2 separate regions of the Homo sapiens genome follow, and region 1 is linked to region 2. The links come from fine-mapping of genetic effects on gene expression. A gene starts in region 2. The other region holds a variant in brackets. All regions are shown on one strand. Distances are from middle to middle. Region 1 has its middle 41 kb from the start of ABRACL. Region 2 holds the start of REPS1 (RALBP1 associated Eps domain containing 1).

Region 1 (5,382 bases), 82 kb before region 2:
TTGATATGGATTTTAAGGAACATTGCAAAAACCATTAAATTTAAATTTAATAAATTAAATTTATTAAATTATGAAGAACATTTCATAAAGTAGATTGCTAAAAGTCATAAAGTCATTATGTAGAGGTAATAGGATTTTTTCATTTTTATAATAAATTATAAAACAAGAAAATAATGTGATTTCTTACAACAAATCTATAGTTAAGTGATGTAATATAAAATTCTGGCTTGGTAGAGGTCCCTAAAGTGGGAGAAGGAGTTCTGTGGAAGTGGGTGACAATGAAGACCCTTCCTAAATATGGCAGCCGGTTCTCAGGCAGATCAGTTTCAAGTAAGAGTATGTATGGAATTTGAGAACCTAGAAATTGATTCCCTTAGAACTGTGTGTGCTCACATGACCCTTGGAAAGTCTTCAGGTACTCCAGGAATATTCTAGTTTGAAGGCCACTGCTATTAAGAACCAAATAACCAACCTGCTTTGATACCTAAAAATAATCAAACACATAATCAATAACAATTATTATTGAGAAGGGCCAACTGTCATCTATAGGTCAAGAACCCCCCCAGATTATCATTAGTCGTGCTTATTCAACTGAATATCTCAGCTGGATAACTCATAGTAACCTCAAACACAACACATCCATAACTGAATTTATTGTCTTTCCACTGAGGCCTGCTACTCATCCTATATTTCCTGTCTCAGAGCATGAAACTAGCATCTCCACAATGATCTGTGGGAAATGCTGTTGTTGGCCACTCAGTATCCATTCTTCACTAACAGAATCACTTTTAGTTCAGAGAAGCAATCTATTCCGCTTAAAAACTTTCTTGGAAATATATGCAATTTTTTATTTTAAAAAATAATAAGGTAAACAAAGACACATATAAAAAATAAAATAATTCAACAACCAAAAAATAAAGAACCTCCCTTGCAACTAGGGGTAGCTATACAAACTGCTCAGGCTACTGCATATCATAATGACATGGGTGGGACATCCAGGAAGGCTCTATTTTTTTTTTTTTTTTTGAGATGGAGTCTCACTCTGTTGCCCAGGCTGAAGTGTAGTGGTGTGATCTCAGCTCACTGAAACCTCCGCCTCCTGGGTTCAAGCAACTTTTCTGCCTCAGCCTCCCAAGTAGCTGGAATCACAGGCATGCACCACCATCCCCAGCTAATTTTTGTATTTTTAGTAGAGATGGGGGGTTTCACCATGTTGGCCAGGCTGGTCCCGAACTCCTGACCTCAGATGACCCACCCACCTCAGTCTCCCAAAATGCTGGGATTACAGGCATGAGCCACCGTGCCTGGCCCAGGAAGGCTCTTTTTAAAAGGGCTGTCTCTGCCTTTTGCCCTGCAACCCTTCCCTTCATCCAGCTTGGACCAATGTGATGCTGAAAGTAGCACATGCTTCTTACATTAACAAGATGACAAGCACGAGGACGAAAAGCCATTCTAAAGAAGGTTGCGCAGAAAGCTAGGAGAGGCATCACAAATCTGCAGAATAGCAGTAGATTGTGTTGCCAACTGTGATAGTCAAGCACAATCCTGACATCATAACCAACCGAGAAACCTGGACCATTCCCCATGGCTCCTTCTCTCTCACTCCCCACATCCACCTAGTAGCCAAACCTTGATTCTTTTATATCCCTAACATCCCTACTGTCATTCCCGCTTTCTCTAACCCTGTAGCTAACTGCCTCAGTTTGAGACCTTGCTTTTTGGTTTTCCCGTTTTTCTGATGGCAAGGTTTTCTTATTAGAGTCTCAGCTTGTGCCAAAGCTTTAAACGGCTTTTGTTGCCTGTGTCATGAAGCACCAACTTCTTCAAGAGAAACACTAGATCTTAGCATATGCTCTGACTCTTCCTTGGCTTGCTAGACTGATTTTTGACCATATTTCTCCCATCCTTCACTTCAGACAAACTGAGCTACACTAAGTTGTCCTTTGTCTTTGGACCCTTTCTCTCTCTCCTCTGTGCCCTGAAATAACCTTAATCCCTCACTTCATCATGGCAAACATCTACTCTTCTCTTTTTTTTAGAGACAAGGTCTCACTCTGTTGCCCAGGCTATAGTGAAGTGGCATGATCAGAGCTCACTGCAGCCTTGACCTGCCAGGCTCAAGTGATCCTTCCACCTCAGCCTCCCAAGTAGCTGGGATTGCAGGCACCTGCAACCATGCTCCAATAATTTTTTTTAAAAAATTTCTGTAGAGACATGGTCTCCCTATTTTGCCCAGGCTGGTCTCAAACAGTCCTCCCACCTTGGCCTCCCAAAGTATTGGGATTACAGGTGTGTGCCACTCAAGTTATATCACTCTTGAAGCCTTTCCCAGACTCACTCCCTCCTTGTTGAAAAACATAAAGATAATTATGGGATTAGTAAAATGATTTAATTATCGCATTCTTTCTGAGACA[T/G]GGGAATTTAAAATGCCACAATCTACTATATGGGTGTAGAAAAATTATTGTTAACTATTTCTATATCTCTATATATTCTATATCTATCTATCTCTGCCTATAAATGACAGCTGGCCTTTCTCAGCATAATAATAATTGTTACTGAGTATGTGCCTGGTGTGTTTAGATGTCAAGGAAGTTTGGTTGGTTGGTTCCTTTTTTTTTTTTTTTTGAGACGGAGTCTCGCTCAGTCGTCCAGGCTGGAGTGCAGTGGCCCGATCTCGGCTCACTGCAAGCTCCGCCTCCCGGGTTCACACCATTCTCCTGCCTCAGCCTCCTGAGTAGCTGGGACTACAGGCGACCGCCGCCACACCCGGCTAATTTTTTGTATTTTTAGTAGAGACAGGGTTTCACCGTGTTAGCCAGGATGGTCTCAATCTCCTGATCCGCCCGCCTGGGTCTTCCAAAGTGCTGGGATTACAGGCATGAGCCACCGCGCCCAGCCGTTTATTTGGTTCTTAATAGCAGTGGTCTCCAAACTTGAGTACTCCTGGGGATACCTGAAGACTTTCCAAGGGTCACGTGAGCAAAGATAGTTTTACTTGAAATTGATCTGCCTGAGAACGGGCTGCCATGTTTAGGAAGGTTCTTCATTGTCATCCACCTTCCCAAAAGTCATTCTCCTATTTTAAGGAGAAAAATGGACCTCCACCCGGCCAGAATTTTATATTACATTACTTAATTATTAATATATATCACTTAAAATATATGAAATTTTATCAATTTATGAATTTATGAATATATCACTTAATGTATACCAATTTAAATTCAAACTATGCCCTTTGAATTCATCCCATTATAGCTGACATAATTGGTTATGGATTTAATTGTTTTGCTGTGTTAAAAATAAAATCAGATCAAATTTTAAAATTGTTCCTAGGGAAAATATCTATTCAACTATCCCCCATATCGACAATAAGTTATTGTCAGAACATTTTGTGTCACTGGCACAGTTTCACTGGAAATCATGTGTAGTGTGCACATTCACTTTGGATGTTTGTTTTTTTGGAATTTCTTGTATAAGGCAACTTGCACAAATAATATTGTCCTGTTTACTTCAAATATTTTCCCCCTTAAGCCATGACTTTATTTGCTTTGTTGAATAATAAACATAACAGATGAAAAAAAATAAAAGAAACTAACTGTAGAAATTCATGGTGCACAAAGGAACAGTTAGAGAACAAGGAGACCTCAAATAAAATATGGTAAAAAGTCCTGTTCACGGCAGTTATGGAACAGTTTATAGAGCATTAAAGGAGCAAGTATTTTGACTTGTTTCATGACTGGCCTTTAGACGTTAACATTCTTTTTAAGGCAAGCAGAGCTGTTTGAGCTTGTTTGTCTACAGCTAATTGGTTTAATTTCACTGAATCATGTTGACAAGGATGTAAAGCTTATATTTTGTGTTTCATTTATAAATAGAGCTAGCATTTGGGAAAATCAGGATGACTCAAGTGTTGGCTACATGAGTATGGATAGATGGCCTTGAGGTATATCTAAACTGTGGCCTCCATTTTTTATCCCTTTTAATGTCAAAATTATCATTTTCATAGATGCTAATGGTATGACAGAATCAGCCAAGTAATTTCTAAAAATTGCCTCTTAGACTAACATCATTATTTTGTATATCTTATTAACATTGATGTGAATGTTGGGTAGTGAATGATGCCTGGGTGGTTACCTGCTTATTAATTTGCTTTATGTAGGCTCTGATCACAGCTCCACCAATATATCAGCATTTAATGAACATTTGGGGATGATAATCGTATACTAACAATGTCGTTCATTTAGCCATCACAATACAGATACCATCATGCTTTATGTGTTGGTTATGTACTCAGAGTTGAGAAGGGATAATGATACCCAGATTTTTGTTTGATTGTGTTAAAATAAACACTGAGTTTGAAACATCTGGCCAGTCTTTGTTTTTCTATAATATCCATTGATTATTAACTATTTTTAAAAGCCCTTTCTATAATGTCCAAAAACCCTGGTATAATGTACCAATTAAAAAAAAAAAAAGGCCAGGCGCAGTGGCTCACACCTGTATTCTCAGCACTTTGGGAGGCCAAGGCGTATGGATCATCTAAGGTCAGGAGTTTGAGACCAGCCTGACCAATATAGTGAAACCCCATCTCTACTAAAATTACAAAAATTAGCTGGGTGTGGTGGTGCACACCTGTAGTCCCAGGTACTTGGGAGGCTGAGACGGGAGAATTGCCTGAACCTGGGAGGCGGAGGTTGCACCGAGCCGAGATCGTGCCACTACACTCCAGCCTGGATGACAGAGTGAGAGTCCATCTCAAAAAAAAAAAAAAAAAATGGGGTCAGGCACAGTGGCTCATGCCAGTAATTCCAGCACTTTTGGAGGCCAAGGCAGGCAGATTACTTGAGCCCAGGAGTTGGAGACAAACCTGGACAACATGGTGAGACCCCCATCTCTAGAAAAAATACAAAAATTAGCCAGATGTGATGGTGCACACCTGTGCTCCCAGCTACTCGGGAGGCAGAGGTGGGAGGATTGCTTGAGTCTAGGAGTTTGCAATGAGGTGAGATTGTACCACTACACTCCCCAGGTGACAGAGCAAGACCCTGTCTGAAGAAGAAGAAGAAGGAGGAGGAAGAGGAGCAGGAGGAGAAGGAGGAGGAGAGGGGGAGGGGAAGGGGAGGGGGAGGGGGAGGAGGAGACTTGAGAACCTATTTTCTTAGCTTATTGGGCATTTATTTTTAATTATCATATAATTCACTTAATTGAAACACACTTGCAAAAACAGGGCACAATCCTCCAGGCATAGGGTGGCAAACATATAAAGAGAATAGAGGCATCTGCCCTTGCTCCTCAGCACGCATAGTATAAAACTGAGCCCAGTCAAGTTGCTTCAGAAAGAGCTTTTTCTTCCAATCCAATACAGAACTTTCTTCTACTCCT
Region 2 (5,382 bases):
ACATTAATTGAGGACTTACTGTATTGAATGGCTTATCACATCAATGTCAAAATTGATGCTTTCATTCATTCAACAAATTATTATTGATACACATTATGTGTCACATACTGGGCTTTGGCACTGTGGCAATGAAGAAATATTTTCCTTCTTTTCTTGCTTGCTTGCTTTCTTTCTCTCTCTCTTTCTTCTTCTTCTTCTTTTTTTTTTTTTTTTTGATACAGAGTCTCGTCCTGTCTCCCAGGTTGGAGTGCAGTGGCACAATCACTGCTCGCTGCAGCCTCTATCTCCTGGGCTCCAGTGATCCTCCCACCTCAGCCTCCCGAGTAGTTGGGACCACAGGTGCACACCATCATGCCTGGCTATTTTTGTATTTTTGGTGGAGATGGTGTTTCACCGTGTTACCCAGCCTGGTCTTGAACTCCTTAGCTCAAGCAATCCACCCACCTCAGCCTCCCAAAGTGCTGGGATTACAGGCATAAGCCACCATGCCTGGTGAAGAAATATTTTCTTAATAACAAACTTAACAAAGAAATTAGACAGGCAAGATAGGGTAGTGATTTTTAGAGTTGAGACAGCCTGGAGTTTGAATCCCAGATCCGGGTATTTAATAGCAACATGACTTACACAATACTTAACCCATTTTGCCTCAGTTTCCTAATCTGTCAAAAAAAAAAAAAAACCTAGTAGTACCACTTAATAGGGTTGTTGTGAATAATGTGGTTATTAGTGTAAAGCTTTAGAACAATGCCTGAAACTTAGTAATTATTCAATAATTAGCCGTTAAAAATGTAACAGCTATATATGTAATGTCAGATAGTGAAAAGTGTTATAAAGAAAAAGAATTCAGGTTGGGTGCAGTGGCTCATGCCTGTAATCCCAGCGCTTTGGGAGGCTGAGGTGGGTGAGCCCAAGAGTTTGAGACCAGCCTGGGTAACATGGCAAAACTCTGTCTCTACAAAAGCCACATACACAAAATTTAGGTGGGCATGGTGGCCTGGGCCTGTGGTCCCAGCTACCTGGGAGGCTGAGGTGGGAGAATCACCTGAGCCTGGGAGGTCGAAGCTACAGTGAGCCAAGATTATGCCACTGCACTCCAGCCTGGGTGACAGTGGGAGACTCTGTCTCAAAAGAGAAAAAAAAGGAATTCAGATAAGGGGATAGTGCATGGTGGGATTATTTTACAGCAGCTGTTGCAGGAAGGCTGCTCTGAGGAGGTGACATATGAGCAGGGACCTGAAACCATATGAGAGAATACGCCATGCCATGGTTTGTGGAAGGACTATTTTAGATGGCAGGAACAAAGGCCCTGGGGCCGACAAGAGCTGCAAGGCCTAGGAGAGGTGGCAGAGAAAAAGATGCAAAGACAATTGTGAGCCAATCCCTACCCCATTGTGCTCTTTCTGTTTACACCTTTGGAAGGCAGCTGTCTGGGGGGGGTCTGATCACTTGCTGCAGGTGCCCTGAAAGGACACATGAGGGGCTGCTGTAGCAAACTGAAAGTCTTAGAGATGGGAAATAAGCTTAATGGATAGTATATACTTACCTTTATCAAATACTACTAGTCAAGTCAGAAGACATTGACAGGTCTAAAATCCCTTATCTTTCTTAAAAAATAGAAAGATAATAGAATGCCTGTGACTGTGTACATATTAACATTCTACAAAGACCTGGAGTGAAATGAGTAAATATTGACACTAAGTGGGATCCATAAAGGCTAGAAATAGCTTCATGCAAGCTTAGTTTAGATTTTGCCTCCAAATGAGGCAGGGCAGGTTTTACTTCCAAAGGGTTACAAAAAAAAGTCTTTGGGTTTTCAGTGCGCTTTGAATTTTGCAATTACAGATAAATGACTGGGAACCTGTAATAATTTCCTCATATGTGTCATTTATAGGATCCGCACTCTGGGAAACAACTTGTAGAAGACAAAATAAAAACCAGAACTCTGGGTAATTCTGCCTTAGCTCCCGTCTTTGAAGTATTTTATATTTGCTAAGTATAAATTCTTAAGATATTCTACTTGAAATAGCTGAAGAATCCCCTCTCTGGGACAGGTGCAGATTAAAAGAGCGCCACTCCATGATTTTCATAAAGGAGAAAATACGGAAGGCAGCCCCTGTGGGCAGCCCCGGGCCTACATGAGTTGATAGAGTTGAAGGTATAAATGTAGAGTATTAAGTTCCCAGTGACCGGAATGACCTGGTGAACAAAGAGGACAACTTTGCCAGTTTTCCCCTCTATTCAGCACATTTTGTTTCTCAGGTAAACATGGCTTGAAGCACGAGTGAGATGAAGCCTCAATGTTGGTGTCTACGTGGAGGCTTCCCGGATAGCCAGGATGTTCATAGCCCGGATGTTCATAGCCCTTCAGAACAGATGGAAATACTGCATTTATCTTCATCTGTACCGAAAAGGTACAGATAGAATGATAATAACCTGAACAAGGCTCCCCTTTCAATCCAATTATTCAGACGCTTAGGACCAGAAACTGCGAAACATAAAAACTGCAACCCGGATCTTAGTTATCTCGGTCTTAATGAGCTGCCGGCTGTTTCCCACTGCACCCCCCTTTCCGGGGGTCTTGCTGCTGAGATCTCCGCGCAGAGGGCGGCTCGGTCATCCCGCCGCCGGGCGCCGGCCACCAGGGGGCGCTGCGGCCTCCTCCCTCTCCCGGGAGCGGCCAAGCCAGCCCGGTGGGTGTTTCTCTCTCCCTCTCGCGCTCTCTCCTCCCGGCCTCACATCCGGGTCTGGAGCGCGGCCGCCGCTGTCACTGTTGGTGCGGGCGCGTCGGGGCCGGGCCGGGGCACTGTAAATGGCGGCGGAGGGAGGCGGAGCGGCGGCCACGCTCAGCCCAGATCCCCCGAAACTTTAGGTTCGAAGCCCCACAACTTTCCGGGAAGCGCTGCCGCTCCGGAGGCGTGGACGGAAGGGGAAGCCGAGGCGGGAAGTCTGGGGGAATCGGCAGGGAGCCGGGGAGACTCGAACCCGCGGCGGGGGCGGAGTCCGCCAGTGCCTCGCGCCTCCGCGGCCCCCGCCTCTTTCTCTGCACCCTCCCCGCGGCCGGAGCCGGAGCCGGAGCCGGAGCCGTAGTCGCAGCCGCAGCCGCAGCCGCGCGCCGGGCCTCGCAGGCAGCGGCGCGGCGAGCGCAGCCGGGCCCCCTCCTCGCGACCTCCGGGCCCTGTTGCTCGGGCGCACCTGGCGCGTGTGAGGCCGGGGCCGGCGTTTTCGGGAAGCTAGCAGGAGGCCGGGCCACGCGCAGCCCCTGCCGGCCCAGGTTCCTGGGGCCGGGCCCCGAGTAGTGCATGCGGGGCGGGGCGGCCGTGAGCCGGAGGCGAAGATGGAAGGCTTAACGCTGAGCGATGCGGAGCAGAAATACTATTCAGATCTCTTCTCCTACTGCGACATTGAGAGCACCAAGAAGGTGGTGGTCAACGGGCGGGTGCTGGAGCTGTTCCGGGCCGCGCAGCTGCCGAACGACGTGGTCCTACAGGTAACGTCGCGTCCCGGGGCCGGCGGGCGGCTTAGGCCTGCAGTCACTGGCCTCCAGGAGTGGGAGTGGGCGCCGATTCCTTGGGGCCCGGCGGGGGGCTGGTTCCTCGGGGGGTCCCCGCAGCGGGCAGGGGCCGCAGGTGCCCGGGAGGCCTGGACTCGCGCCGCGGCCAAGGGGGAGGGGGTTGCCCTTAGAGGACGGAACTCCTGTGGTGGGGGTCTGAAGAGCCTCAGCCGGTATCCCCCACGACCCTGAGAATCTGTGCTCTGTACTGCAAGAGCTATCTCACTTGAAGGATCTTAGGTTGTTAATGTGTGTGAATCCTAGAACCTGGCATATAGAGAGCTTTTCGGATCCTGCAGAGTAGTAAAGTTATCAGTATGGGCAAAATGGTTTTTTTAATTCTTGGATTAACCGAGAAGACGTGATAAAGTGAGTTCTATAGATTTAGGAATCGAAGAAGCAGTTTTTTTAAAGGAAGCAAAATTCTTAGGGAAATTTTTTAAAATGTGAACTACTTAGTAGTTTTACAAGTAGGCATACAAGAAGTTGTAATTATCTGTAGAACGTGTGTATGTGATGAGACTGAACAATGTTTTTCAACAGGCATTCGAAAGCATTTGTGGAACTTGTGGATTTGGGTTGGGAGATGAGTATTGAACAGCTGGTAGGCAGAAGTGCGTTATTTGCCCTAATCTGAAGCCCTGGAGGAGCAAACCCTGTAGGTTTAAAGCCTTTTTTTATCATATCTGCTTTTGAAACAGAGGACTTCCTAGAAGTTCTTATCTAATGTATGTGGTGAGCATTAATGCTACTCTGTTTAATGATTCATAGCTGCTAGTAGGAGTCTGTCTAAACAGTATGTTAGGAACAGGTTTTAAGCTTTCATCTTTTATATTGATCCAAGCTAGTTATCCACATCTCCAAAATTTAAAGCCACATGTATAGGTGTATGTAGTGGACTGCAAAGCATTGGACCAGGGTTTTGAAGGCTGGGTCCTTGACCCTACTCTGCTGTTAACCAGCAGTGTGACTTTGGGTCAGGCACTTTCCATTTTCAAGCATAAGTATGTTCATCCACAGAATGAAGGCAAGTTTCTTCCAACAAAAATTCTGTGAAGAATAAAAATGTCCACACACAGGTCTCTGTTTTAGAAGTTAAGTCTGCATTAACTATGACTAAGTTGAACGAGTTCGATCTTTTTAAATGGTCTTGTGTTTTACATTGCTTTTTTAAAGGTGGGATGTCTTACGTGCCAGTGAAGGGCAACGAGGAGTCCCAAATTCATCCTGTTGAAAAGGGACAAATAGTAAATATTTTGGGCTTTGCTGGCCACATATGCTCTCTGTTGCATATTCTTCTTCTTGTGTTTACAAAACACAAAAATGTAAAGCCATTCTTAGCTCAGGGAGATACAAAACAAAGCCTGTGGTCTGCTAACGAAGGGTGCTGGTAGTGTGGTCTATGGTACTCTCCTGTTACAGCTTTGGAGTAGGACTTAGAGATCTGGTCAGAACATGCTCATTAATCATACTCTTTTTGCTCCTTTTGAAGAAATAACAAAGTATACCTTCAAGTTAGGATCTAAATAAAATTAAGGAAAAGCCTTCTCTGTTCTATTTTAGTTTGTCTTTGAGGTGAGAAAGAGTTGAAATAAAACTTTCAATCTTTTTAATGGGTACACAAAGACTTTAGAACTTGAAATGTAATTTTTAGGACAGACACATTAGCATTAATGAATCTTTACTTCAAACATGTTTAATTCAGTGCAAGTTATTTTTATGTTTTGCTCAATTTTATTAACATTCAAAAAATAAATTTCCATTGTCTTTTGGCATAAAGAGAGAGCTTAAATATTCAGGGTTCAGTTACAAGTTGGAACTCCCTGGAGCAG

Evidence for each region. PIP is the estimated chance that this variant, and not a neighbour inherited with it, causes the effect.
Region 1: its variant is the best candidate, but not a certain one, in a credible set for the expression of REPS1 in esophagus mucosa (GTEx, PIP 0.56).

The regions. Positions count from the first base shown.
Region 1 is chr6:139,067,497-139,072,878 of GRCh38, reverse strand. No RefSeq gene overlaps it. Among named protein-coding and RNA genes, the nearest start is that of ABRACL, 41 kb to the right of the region's middle. The variant T/G (reference allele first, on the strand shown) is at 2,415.
Region 2 is chr6:138,985,635-138,991,016 of GRCh38, reverse strand. It overlaps REPS1 (RALBP1 associated Eps domain containing 1), which reads left to right and starts at 2,764. Exons shown (of 20, transcript NM_001286611.2): 1 at 2,764-3,487. The coding sequence starts at 3,335. RefSeq lists silencers at 2,533-2,772, 2,963-3,262.